3 linked regions of the Homo sapiens genome follow. The protein of the gene in region 2 interacts with the protein of the main gene of each other region in a pairwise test. Each region holds a gene or a part of one and is shown on either strand. Other genes may lie near its edges.

What was found.
Region 1: the proteins of RAB31 (region 2) and NEK7 interact in binary tests that used the Homo sapiens proteins (3 or more experiments, as listed by UniProt).
Region 3: the proteins of RAB31 (region 2) and ALS2CL interact in binary tests that used the Homo sapiens proteins (3 or more experiments, as listed by UniProt).

The regions. Positions count from the first base shown.
Region 1 is NC_000001.11:198,257,928-198,265,034, forward strand, and holds part of NEK7 (serine/threonine-protein kinase Nek7), read left to right. Parts: intron 1-4,647; coding exon 4,648-4,710; intron 4,711-6,197; coding exon 6,198-6,308; intron 6,309-7,107. UniProt on the Homo sapiens protein: Protein kinase which plays an important role in mitotic cell cycle progression. Required for microtubule nucleation activity of the centrosome, robust mitotic spindle formation and cytokinesis.
Region 2 is NC_000018.10:9,703,921-9,711,382, forward strand, and holds the start of RAB31 (ras-related protein Rab-31), read left to right. Parts: upstream 1-4,380; 5' UTR 4,381-4,485; coding exon 4,486-4,524; intron 4,525-4,751; exon of another isoform or gene 4,752-6,073; intron 6,074-7,462. UniProt on the Homo sapiens protein: The small GTPases Rab are key regulators of intracellular membrane trafficking, from the formation of transport vesicles to their fusion with membranes.
Region 3 is NC_000003.12:46,676,623-46,683,729, forward strand, and holds part of ALS2CL (ALS2 C-terminal-like protein), read right to left. Parts: intron 6,705-7,107; coding exon 6,508-6,704; intron 5,473-6,507; coding exon 5,407-5,472; intron 4,977-5,406; coding exon 4,878-4,976; intron 4,786-4,877; coding exon 4,624-4,785; intron 3,920-4,623; coding exon 3,808-3,919; intron 2,666-3,807; coding exon 2,588-2,665; intron 1,768-2,587; coding exon 1,637-1,767; intron 401-1,636; coding exon 227-400; intron 117-226; coding exon 20-116; intron 1-19. UniProt on the Homo sapiens protein: Acts as a guanine nucleotide exchange factor (GEF) for Rab5 GTPase. Regulates the ALS2-mediated endosome dynamics.

The sequences.
Region 1 (7,107 bases), on a different chromosome or scaffold from region 2:
TTTGTGTGGAAAATAGACAATAAATCAAATAATTATAGCAAAAAATAAATCAAATAATTATAGCCAAAAAGGAAATGACCATGCTGTGGTATTAGAGACAAACTAGAGGAGGAGAGCATTTTAGATAGAGTGTGCAGCAAAGGCCTCTCCGAGGATGTGAAATTTAAGCGTAGGTGGAGGATAAGGAGTCAGTCATCTGAAGGGTAGTGACAGGAAGGTTCCAGCTGTAGAGCCGGGCACGGTGACTCAACGCCTGTAATCCCAGCATTTTGGGAGGCTGAGGCGGGCAGATGACGAAGTCAAGAGATCAAGACCATCCTGGCCAACATGGTGAAACCCTGTCTCTACTAAAAATACAAAAATTAGCTGGGTGTGGTGGCACACGCCTGTAGTCCCAGCTACCTGGGAGGCTGAGGCAGGAGAATCGCTTGAACCCGGGAGGTGGAGGTTACAGTGAGCCAAGATCACGCCACTGCACTCCAGCCTGGAGACAAAGCAAGACTCTCTCAAAAAAGAAAAACAACAACAACAAAAACTTGCTTAGTATATATTTTTAAGTACTTTGTTTTCTGCATTTTAAATGGTCTTTCTTCTAACAATTTGACATATGCCTTTTTAAGGGGATATTTCTGTTAAGTTACTAGAAGGATTTCATTTCCTTTTAAAGAAATCTAGTGTTAACCTTTTCAGTTTCATTAGCTATGAGTAATTTTGGCAAAATTTTAAGATGACAAAAGAAAACCTTTAAAATGATTCAGAGAATACCAAGAATTTATCAGTCATTACTTGCCTAACCACAGCTCATCCCTTGCTCTTACCAAGTATAAAATGAGTTTAAAAACCTGAAGAAACTTTGGTGGAGCTGAATGAAAATGATGCCTCCTAAAGACTTGTTTGTACATATTATATGCAAGATATTCTTACAAAGTCCATATTTTCACCCAAGACATACTGCTTTTTCTTGCTCATGAAATCATCGGACAGCTTTGAATCTGTGTTTGGGAATGATGTAATCTAAATATTCATTATTATTTATTTTTGTCTTGACTTGTTGGCTGAGAGAAAAAGAAAGATAAGATACTTCTGAATTTCCAGTTAAATGTATTTGTAAATGTATTTTGCTCAGAATTTAGTTTTGCTTTAGATGTGCCATCAATGCTTATTTCTCCCTGTGTTTGAGGAGTGACTTTTGATATTATTGAAAATTCAGTTAAAAATAAAAGTCAATTTGTAATTCTAAATTAATTTTTATAACTTGAATTAAAGATTTTCTATGTAGCATGTTTCTATCTTGATATGTTGTATCTTGTTATGGTTTCCTAAAACTCTTATACATCTATTATTCATTCTTATCTCACTCACCCTCTTTTGTTTTTAAAAATGTTGTTCCACATCATAGAGACATTGATTACTGAGAGATTAAATACATATATGTCTCCAAGTTTGTGATTTTCTTCATTTTAATTACTGGTACTATATGGGCATTATTCTTTCTCTGCCTCCTAAAACAAACAAACAAAAATACCAGGAATTACATCAAGATCTGATATACTTACAATTTTGTGCTTTCCAGTATATCTTTGATTTATCTCAAATTCCTTGTAAATAGCATTTCCTGAGAATGGCATCAGCATTTATGATGTGTCAAGAATCAGTTATTTCTCATGCCATTTTGATTTAAAGTGCAAGTAGTCTGTGTGTGTGTGTTTCATACCTATAACTAATATCAAGTTCAAATTTTTCTGTTTCCATTAGTGTTTGTTTTATTGTTTAACATGTTGATATAATAATCCCTTTGGGGGAATGAATGGCATTTCTATGTGAAATTGCTAAATGTAAAGCTTATTCCTTCAGTTCAAGAACTTTCGATTTTACACACACACTCACACACACACACACATATATATTTTCCTGAAGGGCATTACGCATTCCTGCTTATATAAATCAGTTATTGAGAGCCCTTCCAGCCAGCCATGCTCACCCCCATTAAGGTTCTTACATCACTTTGAACAAGTAGCACTTACAAGTTGCGTGTTAATTTTCTGTGTTGCAGTCTGCATTCTGCATCTGACACTGTGCATCTTAAAGGACTGCAAGATGGTTTTCTTATTTGTATCTGTAATAAAATCTGATAGTAAGATGGCATTCAGCATGGATTTTTATATGTAGAAAGGGTGGGCATTAACAGTTTAAGCTTGTCTGTACTCAGGATCAGGTTATTCATATTAATAATTTGTGTGTAGAGTTAAAACTATGATGCTCTTGGAGAAAATTTCTGCAAGGTTTTTCCTTCCTTCCATAAATAGTGTCATATGGTTTGTTCTTTAATACTGGTAATTTTTTTAACCCCTGCTATTGGTGTCCATTTATATCTAGCTCATTTTGTCAAAGCTTAATGTATACAACAGCTTAATGTTAGCTAAAACATATCTTACTAGATAGTTTATGTGAACTTTGTGATAGTGATTTGCCACTCATAGTCCTTTCCTTTTTTTTTTTTAACCCCTTTTCCTTTCCTTGCTGTTGTTTCATCGTGTTGCATTCTGTTCCATTCTGAAATCATGGTAGTTAACATGAGTTTACTGTGGCTGACATGGTTAGAATTACTGCTAATGGAAAAAAGAGAAGTTAACTCTCTTTAATATATGTACCGGCATACATATTTCTTCTTCTGTTATTTGATTAAGTGGGAGAAACTTTGATGTAATCTAGTCTGTCTCTTTTTGTAAACCATCAAGTAAGGTAAGGCTTTATATTTTTTCAAATCTTAAACTGCAGTGCTCAATATTTTACATTAAAAGTTGCAGAACGTAAATTTGATACTTGAAGTTTTCATTAGAAGTAGTAGAACCAAAATAATGTTAGTGAAAAAGCATATATATCATTTTATATACTGCTATTTTCACTATGCAAAAAGCACATGCGTTTGTACAAGAAATAGAAGGGACTGAGCCAAAGCTAAAATTCTTTAAGGCAGTGAGTTTATGGATTTTATTTTTGCTTTATAATCTTATCTAATATCTTCATATGGTTTTTTAAATTAAGACAAATTAGAACTTTGTGTATCTTTGGATATTAAGAATGATATCTAGAAAAAGTTGCCTCTTATAAGCTGTAATTTTACACCCTTATTCCATATTTACTTTTATGCAGTAGATATCTTTTGTTTCTGACTGGCAGAATCCTATAATTCTTTCAAGGTTCACCTCTAATGGTACCCGCCACCCTACATGGAAGGAATTTCTTCCTTAGGTTTCTAATACTACACTTTGTACACACATATATTTTAATACTTATTAGCTAGTTGTGTATGCATTAGACTTTGTGACAGCCTGGCTCATTGAGAAAACACTGACTATGGAGCTAGAACAACCTGGCTTCAAGTCCTGATTCTGTCCTTTACTAGTTTTATGATCATAAGCATATTATTTAATCTTTTTGAGCCTCAATCCTCATCTTGTTATTGTGGCCAATACTACCTGTCTTATAAGATTGCAATGAAGTTTAAAGCATCATGTGTAAAGAGGCCAGCCCTCTCTGGTAGTGTCTAATAACTACTTCTTTAATTAAAAAGACTTGGATTCTGCCACTCCTTTGACATTGTACCTTCTTTTCCTGGAATGTTAGCTGGCTGAATCAGGAAGACTTGATCAAGCTGATTACTAAAAATGTCATTAATTTTTTTATTTGTTATGTAACTAGGGTTTTAATCAGCTTGCAGTACTGACTTAGATTTTTTTTGCAGTCTCTAAGATATTGCTTTTTTAAATGTTATTTTCCACACACTTAGAACCTTGAGAGATTTGTGTTTTCAGAGACACATGAAATATCTTTTTGATTGTATTTTTTATTTTTATGTTTTTAACAGTAGGTTAATATTTTTCAACCTTTTCTTCATTATCCTCCCCCCAAGCTGCCTGTTTAGACATTTCTTCCTAATTACCTCTACCCATGAAATTTTAATTCCACAAATACAGTATATCTGTTTATGTGTAGTACTGTATGTGTATCTATACTTTATACTTAATAGAGTAAAATTTTGTTACCCTTCTCCACAAAGAACCAATTTTCACCCCCTTGGAATGATATCACCCTTGTCAAGAATGCATGCATCAGACCTTTTAGACATGATTTGATGGAACAGATTAATGGTTCAGTGCTTGGGTTCTAGATGGATAACTCTGAGAATGAATTCTGCTTGCTCTGTTGATTAGCTGTGTGACCTTTTGTCATTCTCCTTAGCTTTCTAAAGCTTCTCTTCTTCATCTGTAAAATGGGAATACTACTATTATCATCCTCATAAGGTTGTGCAGTACATTTAGCATATATTAATTGCTCAACATATATTAGCTATTACTTTATCATCTTAATAATCACAACTTTAATTTTGTTCATTGGAACTTAAGACCTGAGTGTTAAGGGGTATCTACCTGTTCTCTTTATCCATTTTTTAAATACTGACTGCTGAAAATGTAAGCAATGTTGGTAACATAAGATACCTACAGAACTCCTTAATAAAGAAAAGCTAATCAGAAAGAAAATTCCTTAGTGTACAAATAATTACATGTAGAGTATTAAAATGAATTTACACAATAGCTTGAACCATAGGTTATTATTTTATTAAGTAATTCTGGGTTCTGTTTTTAGATATTTGATTTAATGGATGCCAAAGCACGTGCTGATTGCATCAAAGAAATAGATCTTCTTAAGGTAATTAATGAACTGTTGACTCTTTTGAACATAACATGGTGATAAAAGTGATTTACTAAAATATCACACTTAAACACAAAAAGGTTTTTAAGACTTATGCTACACTGATTTCAAGTAATATTATATAAGGTTAAATTTCAGTATACTGAAGAATGTAGTTATTTTTTGGATTTATTGTTAAATAACATAATCAGAACATTTGTAGGACCAGCTTTTTTTTCTCATTTCAAAGTAGGAAATAGATAAAATGGGCATAAAACATTGAAGAATTTTTTTTTCTTGACCACCCCAACAAGACATATTCTAAAGGTTAAGTAATATAAATGCAAATTAGCATTATCTCAACATGTATTATATTGAGAATGTGGACTAATCAAAATGGTTCACATGCATTTTCTAATGTTTCAATACTTTTTCCAGACTTAGACAGAGTGCATGTAAAGAGTATGCCAGGAATTAGCTTTTTAGTTTCTCATCTACTAAGAATATGACTGAGATTTCAGTTATTTCTGCACTGCTTCTTTTATAGTGAAGTTTCTTTTGAGAAATACTGCGGCCTATGTTGTATTTTTAACTTTTAGTTAAGACTTCGCTCTTTTTTTATGCCATCCGTTTGTGTTAGTGCCTAAAATGAACCAGATTTATGCAAAAAGGAAGAAAGTAAGGTCAAAACAATGTTTTCTGACTATTCTGTTAGTTGTAGTTATTTCTTGGCACATGAAGTAGCTGGCTTAAATATATGTAAACTTTTACTGTGGAAATAGCATGTCATCATAGAAAATTTGCAGCGAAAACTTTAAGTAGAAAGAAGAAAGTCACCCATACTTTCTGCATAATTTCTCAGAGAAACAATTCATCTTGTATTAATATGTTTAAAGATTGAACAAAAGGATTGCAAATGAGTAGGGACTGATACGTATATTTCTACAAGGTAAAATTTTTCTTAGGGATGATTTTATGAATTGGCTCACATGAATAAGTCCTGTATGTTATTTGATATAAAAGCAATAGTTAGATATAGTATAGTAGGTACCAGCTGTGTTTTGTCTACTAGCTGGAGTTATTCTAGGACCAACCATAACTTCCAAGTAGGAGTAAAAAGGGATACTTTATTTATCATTGAGTGTTCCTAAATGAAAGTTCTCATTTTGAGGATGTAATTTTTAGCAGTTGGCGACCTAATTCTATCATTTACTTCTTGCATCTGTTGATATGCTTATTGGGCATAGCAGTACTTTTAAATTAAGATTTAAACGTAAAATATATTCTTTCTAATAAAGAATATTAAGATAAATTAATTTATACCTAGTTTTACTTTTAATAATTGTAATATTTGTTTCACAATTCACTAAAGAAAAGTATACTGTCATGTTAAGATTTCTGTAATTTAAAAAATACGGTGAAGTTTGTTCTTAAGTACAAAACTATAAGTGACTCTTGGATATTTACAGTAAGAAAACTTTCTGATGCCTGTTTTATTTTCTCAGCAACTCAACCATCCAAATGTAATAAAATATTATGCATCATTCATTGAAGATAATGAACTAAACATAGTTTTGGAACTAGCAGATGCTGGCGACCTATCCAGAATGATCAAGGTAAGTTTTGAAAAAATTGTCTTAATGTTTTGTTTTGTTTTTTTTTCTAATAGAATTGTCTGTTAAACACATAGGGATATTAGATATTTTAAACTAAAGACCTCAATGCAAAGCTTATCTGATAGATATGTAACAAATAGTAGATGGTTAGTGATCATAATTCTGAAACTGGTTTACTTGGTGATGTTTACACTGATCAGCTTAAATATCTAAACACCCCAAAACCAACTTGGAAAGAGGCCAAGATACTTGTCTTCTGTAAGTTGAGTTAAAGTTTTGCTGTTTGATTCTCTGAGCAGACCATGCTTGATCCTGTGTCTCTGGACATGAGTAAAAGGAGGTAGAAAGAGACTCTAGAGCAGCTTGACCTGTTTCTTGGGGGGGAATCCATCAAAGAAAGTGGGATTTGCAGTCAGACCTTGGATATCAACCCCACATAAAAGTTGTTTAACCTTCTTTTCTAAGGGCATATTAATTCATAATTAATATAATTAAGTTGTTTAACCTTCTTTTCTAAGGGCATATTAATTGGGTTTAAGTTCAGCTGCAATTAATAGAAACCCTTAAATAATAGTAGCTTAAAAACTGTTTGTCCTTGGGCCAGTTACTTCTCTGTGTCACATTTTCTAAAAAACACAGTAATAATAGAACCTACTTTATAGGATTGTTGTAATGATTGAATTAATTAGTATTTATTAAGAGCTTAGAAGAATGCCTCACACATTGTAAGGCTATGTAAATGTATCTGCTGCTGCTATTATTATTGTTATTGTTATTATTTCTCTGTCACATAAAAGTC
Region 2 (7,462 bases):
CTTTACTTGGGGGTTGATTTCAGTTGAATTCAAGGTTTGGCATCTCTGGAATTTATACCCATTTCTTGAATAAGAAGATCTACAAAAATGAAGCAACTACACCAAGCCTCAGACATTTCACATCATACAATAGTCTCCTGTTTATATGTTTGTCTCTTTCCTTTATAGCTCGACGTCAACGTGGGTCTTCTTCCGCCATTGGTCATTCTTCCAGTGTCTAGCACAGTCAGTGTCTGCTATTTGCCGAATGGGTGGGTAAACAGCTAAACATAGAAATCCCTGTGATATGAGAATCGTTGCCAACATCTAAAATTAAACCAATTTTTAGTTTGAGAGCAAATAATATCAAGGTACAAAAAAGTGAAACACAACTCCTTTTAAGAAAAAGAAATCCTAAACTCCGTGTATTACTCTGAGCAATTGCAGGAAAACTTCTGACTCGCCAGAAGAAATAACCCAAGACAGTCTATGAAACGAAACTGGGGTTGTGGTGACTTTGATCTGCATCATTGTAGTTTAATTTCTCAGTTTTACAAGTAAGCAATGAAAATGAACAGGACTGACTGAATTACATGTTACTTAGGGCTTTCGGGAGGTGGTCACAGCTGAATCAATCCGTTTACCTTCCATGGGAGGTGTTAATATATATCTTATTGCTTATTTTCTTTTAACCCAACACTTTAAGCTCAGCCAGAGATCCAAGGGACAGTGGAGGTTGCTAGGCAGGAGTGTCAGTAAAGAGGCCAGTTGGATGCTGAGGATGGCTTAAGCTGCCCAGTGCTGGCTCTCAGGAATCTGGAAAATTTAAACATTATCACCTGACACCAATCCTTTGTGAGATCCCAACAGAGCCTTCCCTGTCTTCAGTGAGAGCTGTCTACTTGTTCTGGAACACTTCTGAGCACTCCCATTTGAGGCGATGGAGACGATGAGGAGGCGAGCCCCCACCCTCCCCATCTCCCATCTAAGATGTCACCACACTTTCCACATGAAGACATCTGGAATTGCAAAGGAGGCTGTGCAGTTTCTATCCGCTTACCTAATAGCCCCTCCACCGAGCAGCCACCTTCCTTGGGGTTCTCAGGGACGCTCCCTTTCCCACAGACAGGCTCCTTCAGTTTCCAGCCTCCCCCCTCCAGCTATTGTCTCCTTTTTCAAGTCTGTGGGTGAATTGTGGGGTCCACTCACCTCTGTTTTTCTAAATCCCTCAAATCCCTTTCCTACCCTGGTATGTCCAGGATTCATCTCCTCAAAATTTGTTTAAAGGGCGTGGGTTACAAATAAGGTTAGGTAGCACATGCTATTTAGAAAGTTTCAGAAAGAGAAGGAAAGAAGGAAGGAAAGAAGGAAGGAAGGAGTTGTTACATAAATGAGAAATACTAAAAGGCTGTTTAACTGATATTGCAGACACTATAGTTCCATAAAAAAGATAAATTATGAAAAACAAGGTTTGTAAACATTTTTATCTTTCCTTAATTGGCCCTTGAGCAGACCAGATGACTCAGTACTGGTCTCCAGGGATCAGCCTGCACTCCAGGGCGTTGTGACACATTTATATTGCTTATCCTATTTAACATTTTGAGTCATATTATTTTCACAGAACCTTATTTACTATAAACGTCTCTATAAATCTACATAGTATACACATTTCATTTAATATCTAAGTAACATATACTATTGTACACCATCAAATATACCCAGTAACGACACCCTAGCTTGCTTAATCATTCCTCAAGTGTTAAGAGGTTTGAGTTACAATTAACGCAACAATCCTCCCTTTACCTCCATGGATGTAATTTTTTTGTTGTTGTTTCTCTAACCCATTTATTTGTTTTTTTTGTCTGCATATGTGTTTATATTCAAACAGGCAGCTTTGTTTACTTTTCGTCTTTGTATGTTATTGTTCAAAAAAGGATTTCCTGAATCAAAAAACATGATCAGTTTTATGACCATTACTGGCTTTTTCTGTTGGAGACTTTATAGCAGCAGAGAAGTTGAGGTCTGAATTAGCACAATGACCATTTACGTTACAAAATTCTTATAAGAAAAACTTGCATGTTCTATTTCTTAATTTGATAAATTGTCAGTTATGTACCATTGAATTTTTACCCCTGCTGAAGTTACACCAGAACTACATATTTGCAGAAAATTCCAGAGAAGTCAGGATGGGCCCTTAGTACAGTAATCATAGAGTGTAACAATAGAGAACATGGCACTTTTTTAAAAAGTCGAGAGCTGCCTCTGACGTGTCACTCTTAAAATATGTCTCCCAGCAGTCATCTTCCTGCCTTCCAGGGCTAGAGCTTTGTAGGTTACCTTAGGGTGATCATGGGGACCTGGTTTTCATGAGGCCATGTTTAAGCTCAGGGGTGACCTGGCTGGGAAGAGGGTATAAACCCATGAACACGAGTCAGTTGACAGACTAGGATTGCCACTTTGTAAAGAAGAGCCCAAGACCTGATCAGAATGAGACACAAATGAGGTCATTTTTAACAGAACTAGGGGAGGGGAGAAGGACAAATAGACTGGGGCGATTCTCAGGGAGGGAAGGGCTGGATACGAGACTCTTTTGGGAGAGCCTAGAAACGACGCAAGCGTCCCAGACACCCGGGCTAGTGGAGAAGAGAGCAGAATGAGAGCAGTCATGAAAAAGAGTAAGGGAACACAAGAGAAATTCGGTTTGCCTATTTCTGTCTGGGCACAGTTCTGCCCTTAGCAATCTAAGGCAACTTCACAAAGCTCCACTCACTGCACGGGATGTAGAACACAGTGGAGGCTTCCACCCTGGTTTGACTGGCTTTTGGGAATCAAGCTGGAAAGCCAAAAGGACATGTTTCACTGTGGAGGTGCCCTCAGGGCTGGCGAAGGCCTTGGGGGAGGTGTCTTTGCAACTGTGTAGGGGTGGTTTTCTGATTAGCAAATCTGAGGGCAGGGAGATATTGTGATCAGGACTGTTTGATTCTGGGGAAGCCTCTTTTTACCCTGCCCACATAGAAGACTCTGCTTTGGATACAGAGTCAAGGACGGATACTGATACAATGGACCTGTAACTTGTCCATGGCTGCCTTTTGTACAGTTTAGTCCATTTGAGTAATCTCTACAAGCCTGCACCTCGAGGGCAAACTTCCTGCTCTTCTGGGGAATTTAATTGTGAATTGTCTGTTTCGGGGCCCATTTTGACTCCTGTATTCCAGGACTTATCTCTTTGGAGGCCTTGATTTGGAATTTCCCATTGGATGGGGCTACTTGGGTACTGGGTAGCTTCAACCTGGCTTCCGTAAGAACAAAGCCAGATGATCACGGTGGGTGGTCTGCTAGGAGAATGGAAATGCCATTGATTAAAATTGGAAGGTTAAGAGAGAGGCCTGAGAGTTTGGGATAGGAGATGAAGTTTCAAAAAATCAGTTTTTAAAAAAACATTTCCCATCTGAAATGCCAGTGAATTGTTCAGATAGATTACATTGAAAAGGCTGACATTTCTGTAGCAGCAACGAATGAAGTCATCCGAGTGGATGAGGTGCTCTAGGCCATACATGGAGAAGAGAACACAGTTACCCAAGCCTCCCCGACTGTGTGCGGCCACAGACTCTGCTCATTTCCCAGTTAGGAACGATGCAGGGGTCTGCTGGGATCTCCACGTTTCTACCTGTACCTCTGAGGACTGGGTTTCTGCCCACACGAGTTGCAGGATTTGCTCTACTGAGAAAAAGACTTTTGCTCCAGAAAGCAAGTTTCCCGTTTCAGACACGGACAGCGAGTTTTGCTTCTAGAATCATTTTCAGCTGCATACAGAAAAATGAACTTGGCTGAGCTGAAGAGCCACACATATGTTAAACGGAAGCTCGGGTATTAGGAACGTCGAGAAAGGCAGGCCGAAAAGTTAGCCCCCTTCTCCTCACCCCTGTCCTCACAGCGGCCCCTTCAGTGGCCTGACTTTTTCTGCGTGGGACCCAGAATGTCGCTTGAGGATGGGACCCCCGCAGACCTCCACGCGCTGCCACGCAAACGGCCTCGGCCGAGAGCATTCGCTTTCCAGATGAGAATGGCATCTTCAGGGACCCGCTGGTAGTGGGGCCAGGTCTCCACAGGGCCGGTCCAGTCCTTCCTACCCACCCGGGCCCTGCGGCCAGGCGGGGCCGGGAGGGGCGGATGCCGGAGGGCGCTGGGGGAGGCCGACCCGCGCGGGGCTGGTCCGAGGGCGGAGGCAATCCGCCGGCGACGCCGCAGGTCCCGGGTGGCTGACGCCGTCCGGGGGCGTTCCTGGGAGCTGGGGGCCGGCGAGGCTGGACCCGACGCGCCCGGGAGGAGCCGGCCGGCGGCCACGTGACCCACCGCGGCGGGGCCGGCGGCCCAGAAATAGCAGCGGCGGCGGTTCCGCCCGCGGGCGGCGCGAGCGAGGGGCAGAGGCGAGAGACGCCGGCGGGGCGCGGGCGCGGCGGCCCCGGAGGATGCTGCTGAGCCCCGGCACTGCCTGGCTGCGAGCACATGATGGCGATACGGGAGCTCAAAGTGTGCCTTCTCGGGGTGAGTCCTGGCCGCCACCCGCCGGCGGACCCCGGCCCGCGCTCTCGCGCCCCTTCGCTCCCCTATTCCCTGCGCGCTCAGTCCCCGTGATCCCCTCGCTCTCCGCACCCCTCTCGTAGCCCCCGTCCCCCTCGTCCGCGCGCCCCCTGGTTCCCCGGGTCCCCCTGGCTCCCCTAGTCCGTGCGCCCCTCGCTCTCCGCGCCCCTCGCTCTCCGCACCCCGCCTGTTCTCCGCCTCCCCGCCGTCCGTGCGCCCCTCTGGTCCGCCCCCGCTCTCACCCTGCCGGGGTCCGGGTCCGAGCCTGCCCCGGGCTTACTCCGCTCTTTCCTCCCGGCCCGCGAGTCCCCGGATCCGCGGCGACCTCGCGGGGACCCCCAGCGGGGACGGGGCAGTGGCGGCGAGTCTGGGGCCCCGAGGGCTTTCTCCTCCGCTTTTGATAGTTTCCTTCCGGCAGAAAGTTTAAGTTGCTCAGCCAAGTCGCTGAGTGCTCTTTTGCCTCCTGGGGGCAATTGATTTACTCACGTAAAACAGAAAAATAAAACCAAAAGCGAACCCAGCCAAGGGGGTGAAAGCCGAGGGCGCGGCCGGGGTGGAAGGTGAGGCAGTGACCTGTGCGGAGCGCGCCCTGCAAACTTCCCTGCTGCGGGTGAAAGAAGCTGCCTGGGAAAGTCCTCCCCACCATCACTCCCCTAAAGTGGGGTTTTCTCCGCCCGAAGAAGCCTTAAAGCAGCCAGAAACAAAAAAGCAGTCAATCCGTGCGGCCCGGGGACTGCAGACAGGGGACCCGGCGAGGACGCAGGGAGCCGCTGGCGAACCGCCCCTGGGAATTCAGATAAACGTAGGGTCGCTTCCTTTCGGGGGCCCACTCCGCATTCCAGAATTCCTTCTTCTAAAAGAAGAGCCGGTTCTAAGGGCGTTTTCAGCAGCCATTAGCATCTGGTGTACCCGCCCGTGTCATTGGCAAAGCTGGTCTCATGAAAACCATTTCCTAAAAAAGGGCAGCGAAAGGGTCGCATTCTTGTGCGAACTGATCTGTCAAGATGGGGGTACAAGAACTGTAGAAAGAGGAAATGATTTCGGTGAGGACTGAATTGTGCCAGCGTCTCTAGGCTTCCTCTAGGCTCTTGTGGAACCTCCGGCAGGCTCCCATCATCGGCTCCCATCACCGGCCTCTTCCAAAACCATCCCTTACGCTAACTCGATTGTCCGGTTGGCTTAGAATTCCAGAGGATCTGGGAAGGCCCTGCCCTCCCTGCTAGCCCCTGGCACAGATCCGCACAGATCCCCACCTCCCCCGACTTGCTCAGCCACAGCCAGGATCTAGTCTGGTCTTTCTCTGTTGACCTTTTTGTGTGGCAGGAGTGGGTTTTCCTGTTCCCCAGGCCCTCTAATATTTCCAGACATAAATTCCAGGAATCCCATGCTTCCCTCTTGAGGGGCCATTTCAGCCTCAGGAAAGGCCTTCAGAGACTTAGAAGGAATGTCGTGTTCCAAGGAATGAAGAGGCAGCCTTGATGTGCCGTGTTTGTCAGGACTGGCCTTGGGAAAGGTGAAATAGGACATATTTTTGCCTTTTTTTCTGCAACTCTTTTCTCTTGACTTTTACTGAGGTGGTCCAAGCCCTGCCGTGTCACAGGACCCCTTATTTTCAGTTTCGGTGTTTAGGGACAGGTCTCTATGTCCTCCTACCAGGACACTGATCAGGTGGCAAGAACCCTGTGTCAAGAGGCAGGAAACCTAGGCTCTCGTTCTTTCCCACCAAAGAGCTGTGTCGTTTTAGCAAAGCAACTCAGTGGCCTCATCTATGAAATGGGCATAATAACATGTTCCCCCTTTAGGCAGAGGACTACACCAGATGATCTCTTAAGATACATGTTACCATTTCCTGCTAATCTATGAGTTCAGGGTGCCAATTAGCAAACCTGGGAGAGGAGGAAGCTGGAGGAAATCTCTTTACTTCTTTTATCTCCAAGAAAGATACACACTCTTTGAGTGGCTTCCTGCAGACAGTGCCTTACCTTTGCCAGTTCTGTGTGTAGGAATTTGAACTTGGAGTTGGAAGAACCATGCCAAAGCAGAGAAAGAAGAGGTTTCTGGGCAGACGGAGGCTTTGAAACATCAATCGTGGCCGGTCGCGTTGGCTCACACCTGTCATCCCAGCACTTTGGGAGGCTGAGGCGGGGGGATCATTTGAGGTCAGGAGTTCAAGACCAGCCTGGCCAACATGGTCAAACCCCGTCTCTATTAAAAATACAAAAAAAAGTTAGCTGGGCGGTAGCGGCGCATGCTTGTAATCCCAGCTACTCGGGAGGCTGAGGCAGGAGAATCGCTTGAGCCTGGGAGGTGGAGGTTGCAGTGAGCCGAAATCACGCCACTGCACTCCAGTCCGGGCGACAGAGTGAGACTCTATCTCAAAGAAAAGAAAACAAAAGAAAAGAAACATCAGTCATATCACACCACATTTGTGGCTTCCTTTTTTTTTTTTTGAGGGTGGCTGTAAGTTTCAGTTTTATTGAAATCAGAGGACATTTTATTTGAAAGACCAAATGACCTTGTTGTCCACACTGAGTAAGATTTGCCACATCCCCTCGTTTGGCTGGCTCTTTCCTGGGTGAGATGTGTGCAGCAGGCTGTGTTTCTAGCTGCTCATCCAATTAGGCTGATTCTCTGGGTGGGATAACATTGAGGGAGATCAAAACCATTTGACTGTCTTCGGTTTACTCTCTTCTCTCTCTCTCTCTCTCCTCTTTTTTGTTTTGAGACAAGGTCACATTCTGTCATCCAGGCTGGAGTGCAGTGGTGCCATCATAGCTCACTGCACCCTCCAACTCCTGGGCTCAGTGGATCCTTCTGCATCAGCCTAGGTTTATTCTCTTGATTCGAGAGACCCTGTGGATCAGTCAGTGCTAAGTCCAAAAGTCCTTTAAAAAATATATGT
Region 3 (7,107 bases), on a different chromosome or scaffold from region 2:
ACCCCAGCAGGGCTCTCACCTTCCTGAGGTACAGCTGCAGGGCCTTGGGCTCCCGGTGCTGCAGCAGCTCCTCCAGGATGTCTTCCATACTGCCCACACTGTCCTCAGGGTGGGTCCTGGGCACCACACACAGCATCCCTCACCCACACCTCGGCCCAGCCCCCTCCCCCCAGGAAGCCCTCCCCAGCCCACCCTAACCTGTGCATGCTCACACAGCCGGCCTCACCTCTCGCAGGACAGGTAATCCTGAGACCTACGCAGCTCCCTGGAGCTCTGCACGTCGAAGCCCAGCAGGGCCTCCTGCAGGTCCCTGGGGCAGCCAGCACACACAAAGTCCCGGAAGGGGCTGTAGACTCCCTGCCAGCGGCTTTCCACGGGGAAGGCACCCACGCCCAGCTGCCTGCGATGGGGATGGAGGGTGGGTGATGGGGCAGAGAGAGATGGAGCTGAGGTAGGCAGGACTCTGCCCAGGCCCTTGGAGGGGTGGGGGTATGAGCCTGGCCCAGGATCAAGCCCCAAGAAGGGTGGATGGATTGAACCATGCAGAGGGGGCTGACCTCCACGGCTCCAGGAGGAAGAGCAGCAGAGAAAGGGACAGAGAATCTACCCTGCGACGAGAAGACAGACAGAAGCATATGGAATCCTGGAAAGACGGAGACAGAAAGGTGGGCAGATCTGGAGGCCAAGCCAGAGAGGGGGTCTTGGTCCAAGAGAGACCAGTGTCCAAAGTCTGGGATTCCCCTCCAAGACATCCCCCTCTGCCCTCCCTTACAGCTGGTTCCTTCCTGTGGTTGATCCCGCCCTGGCCAACAGGCTGGGGCCTGGCTGCGCATGTCTAATGGAGCCCTGCACTCCAGTGTCATGCTCGTAGGCTACACGCAGCCCACACTCACACCCAGGCTGGGGCCTGCCCCTAGGGATTGCTGTCCACTCCCAGCTCCTGCTGTCAGGGAGAAGCAGCATGCAGGGACAGCGGGCCAAGTAGTCAACTGTACTCCCTCCCTACATCTGAAATGCTGCCTGGGACCACTTCCCATTAGAACTGCCACCCACACAGATTCCTTCCTCTGTGCAATACTGAGTCTTCCTCAACAGACGCAACAAGAGCAACTGTTTTCCAAGGAGGAACTCTGTTCCTACAGGAAAAGAAGTCTATCCTTCTCTGGAATACTCCTTGATAATGACTGTGATTCCACTTAGCAAGTTTCCTTCTTTACCTTGGCTGCCAGGAAACTCAGAGCCAGGCTCAATGATCAGTTGTAAATGCCGTAGGACATGTCTACATATCCCTTTCTTTTAAGGTTAACATATGCTCTTATTTTCTATTTTTTTTTTCCTGTATGTTTGGTTTGTAAACCGTATTGTATCCTTTCGAGACAAAAAAAAAAAAAAAGCAGGACCTAAGCAAAGCCTACAAATAATATTTCTCTCCAGTTTTGTGGTGTACCGCATTATATCCACACAGCCCCTGATCCCAAGAGTCTCTGACTGGAGTTGTACACCCTGGGCTCTCGGAACTCTCTAGAGGGCTAAGAGGTGGGTGCAAAAAGGCCCCTCTGAGGAGACCTGAGTCTTTGGGATGGAAACACAGACACATCCCCAGATAGGCCCAGAGCCAGAGGGGCCAGGCACTCACCTCTTGCAGGTACTGCTCGGGTCTGGTGGGAGGGCAGCCGTGTCCAGCACACCCTGTGTGTGCAGTCCTCTCCCTGCCCCACTGCCGAACGAGCCCTCCAGGGTGAAGCCATTGGGGAAGGTGACCTTGCCCTGGGAGCCAGGAGAAGGAGCAGGGATGTCTGTCTGCCCAGTTACCCTTCCAGCCAATCATGACAGGCCACAAGCCTGTCCATCAGTGTCAGAGAGGCTAAGGACTAATGAATGGGCTTCCCGCCATCCATTCAAGCTGCTCCATGCTGAGGGGTTCATAATCCTCTATGCCTGCCAGAGCCCCCCACCAACAGCTGTGCCCACGTCTCAGGGGCTCGCTCACCTCTGAGGTAGGAAGAGGAGAGAGATGCAGAAGGGACTCACAGGCAAGAGTGGGGAGACCACCACTGAGGGGCTGGGGTGGGGGTAAGCCCAGGGACAGGCAACGCCTGAGGAGGGCGGTGTCTTGCCACATGAGGCTGTCCCATTCATAGCAACCTGATCTCCACCCCTTTGCTCCAGTCATTATGAAACCAAAACAGCCCCTACATTTCCAAAGGCTCCAGCGGGGACACATTGCCTTTTCCTGGGTTAGCTCAGGGAGGCACACACTGAAGGCCAGTGCCTCCAGGGACAGCTGCTCGAGGCACTGGTACTGGTGGAGGGCGTGTATTCTGAACTAGGAGGGTATGGAGGGACACAGCCAGGAGACCACCGGTACCCTCTGGATAGCAGGCAAGGCCACTGGTCCCCTCTCACCTCACTCCAGAATCAATCGCAACTCTGTGGCAGGGTGGAGTTGCTGTGCCCACTCCTTGGCTCCAAGGGAGGTGGGACAGGCCCTCCCCTACCTGCCCCCAGCCCTGAGTCTAAGTGGGGAGATTACAGACACCAACCAAGGCCTTGGCAGGGTGTGGAGGGGGGCCTCAGTGGTCCTCACCTTCCCCATGAGGGTCAGGTCCCTGGTGAAGGTGCCCTCATACAGGGAGTCGTCTTCAGAGAGGAGGATGCCCGGGCCCTTGGGGAGAGGAAGCCAGGGAGGGTAGAAAGGGTGGGTGAGGAAGGGCCAGGAAACTCAGGGTGGAGAGAGATGGCCAAAGAAGGGAGATGTGCCCTGACACATGGCGAGAGGGGCCCTGAGCCTCATCACGCCCCACAGGACTGTACCTAATTGGGACTCTAGCCTTTGGCCTGCTAAGCACCAGCCCCGAGGACCCCATCCCTGGATTTCCCCAAATGACACCCTCCGCCCTGGCTCCTCACCCCAGCGGCTTCTTCAGGAAGCCCTTGGGAGCTCAAGAAATGTGGGGCTTTCTCTGAAACATCCCTGCTTCCCTGCTTGTCACTGGCCCTGGGAACGGCAGAGCTGACCAGGCTCCCTTGCCCCATGGGCTGCCGGGAAGCTCAGAGCCGAAAGGGTTACAATTAGTGTTCGGCTTATTTCCAAATCTATTTTGTGTACTTATTCTTCCCCTTGTCTTCCTCTTTCCTTGAAGGCCTCCTTCAATCCTTTCGAGAATGAAGTAGAGCATAAACAAACCAACAGACCATAATAACAGGAACAGCCATCAGGCCAGAGCCCCACATTCCCCAGGCACCTGGAAGGGTATGGGTGAGGCAAACATGGGAGTCCCAGGCTCGGCGGCCAGGCTCAGCAGACCAGGGTGTGAGTGTCAGCTCTGCCACTCAGTGAAGGTGACATGGAGCAGGTCCTCTGATCCCTCTGAACCTCTCATTTGTCATTCACTAGGGACACACTAGGGATAATAATGACATCAACCTGCAGGGCTCTTGGGAAGATCCCACAAGATCAGGGTGGGAGCTTAGCCCAGAGCCAGGTGTCAAGTTAGGACTCTGTGAATGTCAGCTAATGCATCATCATGAGCAAGTGCTCCATTCTTGTTAGTTCATTGAGTCTATGGTAAGTATTCTTAACCTGAGTTGCTGATGGGGAAACCAAGGTCAGGCAGAGCAGGGATTGGCCAGGGCCAGGGGAGGTGGGTGGTAGAGCTGGCTTCCTGCCCAGGTTCTGGCTCCCTCCAGCACCCAGGAACACAGCCCCCTTTCCCATCCCTCCCTGAAAGGCCTCAGCTCAGCCTCAGTGCCCCCAGCGGGAGTGGGGTGCAAAGAGAGGGATAGCCCAGGATACACTCCACTCACCACCGTCTTGTCCGCCTGGAAGGTGCCCTGGTAGCAGACACCTGCCTGGGTGACCATGACCCCTGGGCCGTGGCGCTGACCAGCCTGCCACATGCCAATGTAGCGCTCACCTCTGGAAGGAGAGGAATGTGGCCAGAGTTGGATCAGACTCATTCCCATGTACCTCCTGGGCACTCTGCTGGCACGGGGCGGCAGGGAGTGCAGATAAGGGGCAGTGACATCACCTGAATCCACTCAACAGACACAGTGCCAGAGAGGTCAGGACCCCCAAGAGGAATAGAGAATGGAGGAGGGAGGGAGGCAGCCTGGGAAGGGCATCTGGGAGGCTTCTCCGTGGAGGTGGCAGGAAGGACAGGGGGAATAGGAGTGTGTGCAAAGCCATGGAGGTAGGAGCATGTGATGGATACGTGGGGACTTCAGTGGTCCAGAAAGGCTGGAGGGGTGCCCAGGAGACGCAGCTGGGGTGAGGTCAGAGAAGCAGGCGAGGCTGTGATTGCCAGGCCAAGGATCCAGGGCTTTATCACACAGCCCAGAGAGCCAGCAAGGGCTGCAGTTTTTAGACGTGACAGAGCAGGGGGTCAGAAATGCCTCTCCAACACCATGAGGAGGGGTGAGGGGCGGGGGCGACCCTGCAGTCAGCGTGACCAAGATTCGCTCAGCCTGAGCCTCCGCAGCAACCGAGGGACTGGAGGGGAAGTGAGGGGCTTAAGAGAGACACAGTGGGGGACAAACAGGAGCCTGTGTCCTGCAACAATCTGGTCTGTGAGGGCCCGGTCCACCCCTCCGTCCTGGGAGTGGTGGCTGCAGGGCGCTCACCTGTCACCATCCTCCTCAATGCCATAGCCGCTCCTCTGGCCCCTCTCCCAGTGGCCCGTGTACCTGAAGGGCTGGGGGGCCTGCGGACCACTCTCAAGGACCCCAAATCCGTGCCGCAGGCCCTCCTGGAAGTAGCCCTTGTACACCTCGTCGGTGCTGTACCTGGGGAGGGCCATCAACAACGAGCTCTGCCTCATGGAGCTCAGCCCAGAGGATGGGCCCAGCCCATGAACCCCCCAGCCAGGGTCACTTACTCACAGATGCCGTAGCCACACATGCTGCCTTCTCGCCAGTGACACTTGTAACAGTCGAACTTGTCCTCAGAGGCCTGGGGCAGCAGGCGGATGCCGAAGCTGACAGCATGGTTGTGGGGGTGGGGATCAGCCCTGACCTGAGACGCCCATTACACCTACTCCATGCCACCCAGGAGTATCCCTGCCCCCAAGGAGCCTTCCAGACAACAGGGAGACTCTCAGAGGCCCTCAGCCTTCCTATCCTTCAAAGGGCCCCTCTCAGGACCCCTCCCTCCAGCCTGGTCCCGAGCACCTTGGAGCACCTTTTGGCCTGTACCACTCCCTCTGTGACCTCGAGCTGAGACGGGCCCCCTATTCAGGCCCCCGGTTCCCCTTTGGTACAGTGGGCGGGGGCTGGACCGGATTGTCTCTAAGTTCCTGCTTGAGGTTTGGGAATTCAGGATGGGGCCGGGCTGGTGACCACAGCAGGGGAGGAAAGCACCCTTCAGCCCACTGCACGCCTCCCAGCAGTAGCCCCAGCCAGCCTTACCCATGCTCCAGGCCCTGGCAGAAATTCCCCACGTGATTCCGCCCATCCGGCCATTTCAGGGTTCCCCTGGAACACAGTGGAGGTTCACGAGCCTCAGGCCTACCCACCCCTCAGCAACCTCAGCCACCTACTTTCTCAGACGCCCTCCCTTCCTCTTCCCTTGGACTGGGCTCCCTGCACCCACCCAGCCCTCTTGTCTGAGCTCCGAACATTCCTTGCAGAAAGCCCCTTTAGCCCTTTTCTACTCCTGGCCCAACTGTACCAGCAGCCTCATGGGGCACACTCACCACATCCCATAAGGAAAGCCCTGGAGACATCTAGGTTCCCTTTTTTCCCTTGACCAACAGGAAGCTCAGAGCTAAGAATCAAGCTCAAGTTTAATGCTGGTCTGTGGGGTTTCTACCACCCTCCTCCCCACTTCTGTGTTTTTTCTGTCCTTTTGTTCATAAGTCTTCTCGAGCCCTTTCTGAAAGGAGGCAGGGTATCAGAAACTAGCGGAGGTGCTTGAGAGTGTAGCCTTGTGAGTCCCTTCTGCTCTCTGGGTCTGTTTTCCCAGCTGTGGCATGGGGTGGGGCCACATGGTCTATAAAGGCTTGCCTGTCTGTGGGGTCACACAGACCTGTGATTGAGGCCGGCTCACCCTATCACTTGCCCTGAGACCTTGGGCAGGTTATGCCCATCACTAGGCCTCAGTGTTTGTACCTATGAAATGGGTAAAAGCACTCCATACAGAGCGTCTTCATGAGGACCGATGGAGATAGAATGTGTGCAAGCCATTTCAACACTGCCAGACAATGAGGTACAGATGTGAGAATTATTCTCCCACCCTCCTAAGAATGGAATGGCACCTGCAGGCTGTAAGGCCAGCGCGTGGTTGCTGCCCCTTGTCCTCTAGCGTCACCATCAAGACTTTATTTGGCACAGACTGTCTCTGGGCCAGGCCCAGTCCAAGAGGACTTAAGAGGGACTCTGAGAATTGACTGTCCACAGAGAGTAACCGCTCCTGGAACATGTCCTGAGACAATTAGGCTTGTGTGCTGCTCTCTGCCCCGCAGACCCCCAGGGAGTCCCACCTTGCCACCCAGAGCTCCAGCCACTCACTTGCCGTGGGGCCGGCCCCTGCACCACTCGCCCTCGTAGGTGGCCTGGCAGAGCCGGCCCTCTGCCTGGAAGGTATATTCTGCGCAGCGGCAGTCGGGAGGCTGGGAGGGCTCCAGGCCAGCCCCCAGCACGGGGAAGTCCTTCTTCCCATGCAGGGCCTGGTGAACAGCCCAGGTCACCTTCCACTGCCAGACTGCCTGGTGGGAGGGGGAACATGGGGAAGGGGATCACTGCTGCTGGAGGCTTTCCCTCCAGGAAGCCTTCTGGGGTAGCTCCAGGTACCACCCCCTCCACCCTCCACCTCCTACTCCATTTTGTCACCTTGGGGACCCTTCAACTGCTTCTTGCTACTCTCTGGGCCCTCCACCCAACCTGAGATCCTCCTCTGCAGTTTCAGGGCCTGCCCAGAGGGGCCAAACAAGACCTCAGGGCAGGGATCAACACAGGACCCAATTCTGTCTTTAGAAAGAAAAATACCCTGTTCTTTTTGACATTCTAATTCTTGACCCCGATTTACTCTGACCAGGTCCCCAGAAGCCTGCCAGACACTCGCCGGCACTCCTGTGGGGCCCTGCAGGGTTGCATACTTCTGCCCTCTTC